Linked DNA regions of Homo sapiens: region 1 is linked to region 2. The links come from fine-mapping of genetic effects on gene expression. A gene starts in region 2. The other region holds a variant in brackets. All regions are shown on one strand. Distances are between the middles of the regions. Region 1 overlaps NR6A1 (nuclear receptor subfamily 6 group A member 1). Region 2 holds the start of MIR181A2HG (MIR181A2 host gene).

Region 1 (2,917 bases), 55 kb after region 2:
GCCCAGGCTGGTCTTGAACTCCTGGACTCAAACGATCTACCCGCCTCAGCGTCCCAAAGTGCGGGGATTACAGGTGTGAGCCACTGTGCCCTATTTAATAATTTTTAAGTGATGCTCAAATTATCCCATCTTTGTTTAGTAAATACCTCTTCAGGGTAGCTGATTCAGCTACTTTTGAGGGGGTAGAAAAGACAGGATTTATGACAGGTTGTATGTGGGTATAGTCAAAGAGGAGGAAGGAGCCATGGAAAGAGTGCCAGGTTTTTGGCTTGGGTGGTTGATGCCTTTCACTGAACAGGGGGGCCAGAGAGAGGAACAGAGTTTTAAAGGAAGACAAGTTTGGACTTGTCTGAGGTGCTTATGATGGATACATCTAGGTGGAGGTGCCCAGGAGGCAGTTGGATATCAGGATGTGAGATTCAGGGGAGCAGTTCCTGACTCCAGGACCTAGGATAAGGCTCAGTTGCTGAGTGTAGTTGACTCAGATTGGGATTATGTGCGTTATTTCTTGTTGGATAAAAATGGATTCCTTTGCCATCAGGAGCCAAGTTCTACCCTAAAGAAAGACTGCGTAAGCCCTCATTGTCCTTTCTTTTACCTATGCCTATCCTTAGAGAGTTCAATTTTTAGTAGAGTGGAAAGGGATAGAACTGGTGCAGGTAGGATTGCCACTTGCTGATTTGCAACTGATCTTGTCAGATTTATTACAGCCAATCCCTCAATTAGAGGAGAGCTCTGTGTATGGGTAAGATTTGCTGGAGTTGGAATTGGGACTGGGAAAACTGGTTTTGGCTTTGCGGGAATGGCTGGCCTAAGGTGGTCTATTTGTATTCCTGAAGGTTTTTTTTCCCCCTTTCCTATGTTGCTGCTTTCTGAAGCAGCTCCTTTCCTTCCTTTCTTCAGTCAACAAATATTCAAGCACTGGAGATACACTGGTTGGCAAAAATATGGGGCACAGTCCTTGGTCTCATATTTCGGAATCCAGTGACGGATACATATGTTATATATGTTAATCAAAAGATCGTCAGCAACAGGTGGTTCTACACTGATGCAGGAACCCAGCAAATGACATATTGATCAGGAACCTTTGACTACCAGTACCAGCCCTTCATTGTTGGAAGATTTAGTCTCAGGTAGGCTTCTAAATCAGAAAATGTATATTTAACACAGGGCCTGAAACATGGGAGACTCTGAAGTAGAGTTTGTCTAGGGGAAAAAACCTGTCGTGAGGTAAGATGAAAGAGTTAGAAAATGTGAAAATGAAGAAGAATATGAATGCACTATTAAGAAATTCAACAGAAGAACTGTACCCCACCCACACAACACACACACCTCTCGAGGAGCCATCTAATTGCTTTAATGTATTATGAAAGCCTTTTAAATACTAAACTGAAGACAGCCCTGGGCTTGACTCTTTGGAGTACATGAGATTAATAAGAAAGGATAGAATTGTAAAATAAAAATACTACGTGATGAGTAATGTCGTAGTATATTTTAGGGATCCAGGCAGAAGGGAAGAAGGGTGCGATTTGACTTTGAGTTTAAGTCTGGGAGAATGGAGTCTTAAAATATTTTACAGAGGAGGTGATTTTTAAATTGAGTCCAGTAAGATTAGTAAGTGGGAGTGGAAACTATAAGGAAATAGTGAAAAGAGTTATTCCAGGCAAATGGAATAGCTTAGTATAATATTTGCA[C/T]TATAAGTAAGTGGGTCAGCATGGCTGGAGTAATGGGTACTTAAGAGGAGTGGTGGGAAATGAAGCTGGAGAAGTCAGGAAGAGCTGGGTTATAGAGGGAGGGCCTTAGGAGTGTGGGCCTTTATACCATAGGTTCCTGGGAACCACTGATGGGACTCAATGAGATCATGCCACACTTAATGGGGGCATTTTATCTTGCCTTTTCCCAGAATTCTCACGTAGAACTGAGTTCTTTTTAGATAGAAGTCTTTTCCTATATCATCTGACGTTGTCTCTAGGTCAGGTAGATGGATGTATGAACAAATGAAACAACCAGAGAAGTGAGGGCTGAAACCAGAGTTGGCTTGGAAAAACTAACCTTCAAGTGGTCTACCTTTATAGGAGCACCAAAGGAGAAAGCCTGTCACTTTACTCTGCCCCCAAGTTTGAGACTTGCTTTGTACAACTTTGATCTTTTTTTACTTCAGCTTCACATGTTGCTTAACAGCAGTTTGAGCTGTTGCTGTGTTCAGGGCTAGAGTATTTATTTGCATTAATCTCTGGGCCAATCTGGGTCTTGAGAAGAAGGTAAACAGTCACGGGTGCCAAATGTGATGAATAAGTCCCAACTTGTTTAGACCTCTCAGGAGACAAAATAGTTGACTGCGTTTATATTTATATGCTCTGTATCTGATTCCTTTGTTTTCATTCAAAAAGGACTTATTTATTCATGTTATAATCTGTTCTTGATTGGGATACTTTAAAAATTCATGGATAAAATCTTGACTGGGGAATTGTGAGAAATTTTAAATGGAGGAAAAGCTCACCTTTTCCAGGTTCCTCAGTTCGCAGGTAGGAAACTTACCTAATTAAATGTCTTACACATATTTAAATTTCCTGGATTGTCCCAAAAATGTCTTTTTACAATTATTTGGTTCAAATCAGGATCTAAAAGTACATATATTGCATTTGGTTGTTAACACAAGGCTGTTCTTTTTTTTGAGACAGGGTCTTGCTCTGTCACCCAGGCTGGAGTGCAGTGGCGTGATCACAGTTCACTGCAACCTCCCAGGCTCAAGCAACCCTCCCACCTCAGCTAGGATAGCTTGGGCTTCAGGCGTGTGCCACCATAATGGCTAATTTTTTTTTTATAGAGACGGGTCTCCCTATGTTTCCAAAGCTGGCCTTGAACTCCTGAGCTCAAACGATCCACACACCTCTGCCTCCCAAAGTACTGGGATTAC
Region 2 (2,917 bases):
CAGAAAGTAAGAGAGAGCTTGTTTTTTCAAGAAAACAACCCTTTAAAATACTTTCCAACCCATGAAGGGAAAAATCCTCCTTTTTTCCCCCAAGTGCATTCTACTTATTACTTTGCATTTTTCTCCCAAAGTCCAAATTTATGCAAAGAAAATAGAAACAAGTTCAAATGCAATGCATTAACCAAATAAAACAAGTCTGCTTCAAATTAGGAACCAACCTAAGCATTTGTAAAGTGTAGCAGAATCAGAATTCTTTTAAAAATTAGATTTGGAACCTGAACTATATAATTCATAATTCTCATTTTTCTGTGGAAAATTATTTTATCTTTCTCCTGTATACCTGAAAAAATGTCCATAGGCTTAAAGGGTCATGCTTTTACATTCCTTCCATATCACAGGTACTATGAAGTAAGGAGACTTTTAGGTTTCTTTTTGTCTTAAACTCAGACAGCTTTGTAAGCAGTAGTGTGTAGATTACAAGAGTTAGACAAAAGCAGGCGCGACTGAGAAGAGTTGGTGGGGGAGAAGCTTGGGGCACTTCCTGTCACTCAACACATTCCAGATCACTAAAAAATTTCCACACCCTCTGCATTCCCCCTTGCCCACTCCAGTTCCCGGTATTTTCTGATTCCATATGTTGTGGTATTTACCATACTTCTCTCCCTCACTAGGCTCTGGCAAGACTGCTTCAGAGGGGATGCATTCCTTTAGATTGCACAAAGCGGAGCTGGGAAAATGGCTGGCAGTTTCAGAATCTAGTCACGATCGCACGCATGAGCACCTCACACATCCATGTCCCTACCCGCCCCCCCGCTCCCGCCCCTGCAGCTGGCTGACCTGTCTCACCCACTGCTGGCCTATCGAACGGCCAGGACTGTCTGGTTTTGGCTCGTGCCTTTGTCCATGTCTGGCTTAGTTCCTCTCTGTCTATGCTTGCCTCTACCCCCACCGCCCCAGGCGGCACAAGTGTTTGGCCACACAAAACTAGAGATAGAAAAGGTGGTAAAAACTTCAAACTTTTCTAAATTCTCCAACAGTTTATTTCTTGTGAATTTCTTCCTTCTTTAAATACTCCATTTTAAGAAAACAAAAAAATTAATTATCTAAAGGCAAAGAATGGAAAGCAACCTTTGTGTTCCTTATAATAACTGACTTCATAACTCTCTCCAGCTGCGTTATGGGATGTGTATAAAAAGCTTCTGTTCTGAGAACAAAGGAGCACGTGCAGAAATGAGACGAAAAAATCCACTGACAGTATTCCATTACACAAATTACTTAAAAGATTTTAGTCAAGCCCCTCAACAGATTCAATTTTAAAATGGCTTTTAGTTAAAAAAAAAAAATTGAAAGTGCTTACCCAGTAAAAGAACCGAAGTAGTCCTGAACTGTTACGTAAGACTTTTTACAGTTGGATCTTTGTCAAAAGGGGATGGGGGTGATGGGAGAAAGCAGCAACGACAATCAAAAAAGTTCGAGCTGCTGTGGCTAGAGGACAACTTCTGTGTTTCCAGATAGGATTCTTGCTGTAGAAATGGAACTTCCAGCCAGCACAGCATCCTGTCCCAGTAGAGAAATGAGTTTGTCAGTTAAAACAAAAAAAAAATTAGATACTGGAACCCAGGCTAGACGAGGTATTGAACCGCGCCAGATTTCCTTGCAGCCCTGTCTGCTCAGCTCGCATTGAACTATATATGACCCAGATGATGGACAGAAGCACATTTAGTCATGTGCACACTGGAAGAAAGCGGATTTGCTGGTCCCTGGCAGTGCAGGGGTTTGTCTTCTGATTGGGCTGTGCCCTGATCGGTGAAATGTGAAGCCCTCACCATTCAGAGGCCGTAATTCAGGACTGGCAGTTTGAGTGTCTGGCTGCCTCTAGTCACTGAGAGACTTTGAAGGTGTTGCTTTTGTTTGGTGGCATTACCCACCCAGAGGTTGCTTACACCTCTCTACTTGTGTCAGAAGAAATACTAGTCTTTCTGAAATACAAATAGGCAGCCGATTTTTCCTGAATCCTAAATCACCCTATTGTTGATAAACTTGGCTCTAACTGAAACCAATTATTTGATTTGAAAATTTATTGTGATCCTAACCAAGCTTCATATCCAGACCAACCCTTGGTCTTGATTTTATAGGTTTGATAAGGTAAAAATAAAAGTGGCATATTTGACTTTGAAGCCTCTATATGATATAAATTGCTCTTAATGAAAATTGGATAGATGGACAACAGAGAAGTGAAGTTTTAGATTCTGGAGTGTTTGGATGTATGAGGAAGAAGCTTTATGTCTTTTTATCCCCTTTGTGAGACTGTCACTCTTGTCCCAGTCCTAGTCACATTAGGGGTTGCTGGGGGGGGGAAGCTATGAAAGCATGGACCCTACTGAGCTGTGACATAGCCTTTAATCATGCAAGACAGCCACGGTCTGCTCTCTTCAGTCTGTCTGAACTAGGGTCCTTGGGGTTTATTTTCCATCTTTCTGAGCCACTGGGAAACCAGGTCATTATACAGGACTGTCATTTGTGACATTTTTGTTTAGTACATGGCAGTTGCTTTGTTTATTTAATGCAAGTTGACACTTCTTTAAAGTTTCAAAACAGTAAAGTTGTTTTGTGAGACCTTGACTCTGATATATGAAATCTACTCTACATGGACCAATCATTTTTTTCCGTGGACTTTCTTGTCTCTTTAGAAATTAGCTTATAGAGTCCTAAATTGATACTTAAACATACCAATAGTTCTGTTTATTTCTTGCCTTTCTCACAGTTGTTGAAATAATTCCATCTGTCTCTTTTGCTGTAAATTTTGGGTTTGGATGTTTGTACTTGGAATTTTTTAGATGTTGACTATATTATGCAGCACCTTCCATATGAGGACTACCCCAGAATTATTCTCTTGTCTTAACCCGAGAAAAGCTGT

The links. PIP is the estimated chance that this variant, and not a neighbour inherited with it, causes the effect. A credible set is the group of variants that fine-mapping cannot tell apart.
Region 1: its variant is the best candidate, but not a certain one, in a credible set for the expression of MIR181A2HG in fibroblasts (GTEx, PIP 0.69).

Annotation. Positions count from the first base shown.
Region 1 is chr9:124,601,705-124,604,621 of GRCh38, reverse strand. The region is part of intron 2 of NR6A1 (nuclear receptor subfamily 6 group A member 1); the gene reads left to right. Among named protein-coding and RNA genes, the nearest start is that of MIR181A2HG, 55 kb to the left of the region's middle. The variant C/T (reference allele first, on the strand shown) is at 1,695.
Region 2 is chr9:124,657,182-124,660,098 of GRCh38, reverse strand. MIR181A2HG (MIR181A2 host gene) reads right to left here and starts at 1,663. Exons shown (of 2, transcript NR_038975.1): 1 at 1,358-1,663. All of the region lies in intron 2 of NR6A1 (nuclear receptor subfamily 6 group A member 1), which reads left to right. RefSeq lists enhancers at 626-675, 1,497-1,616.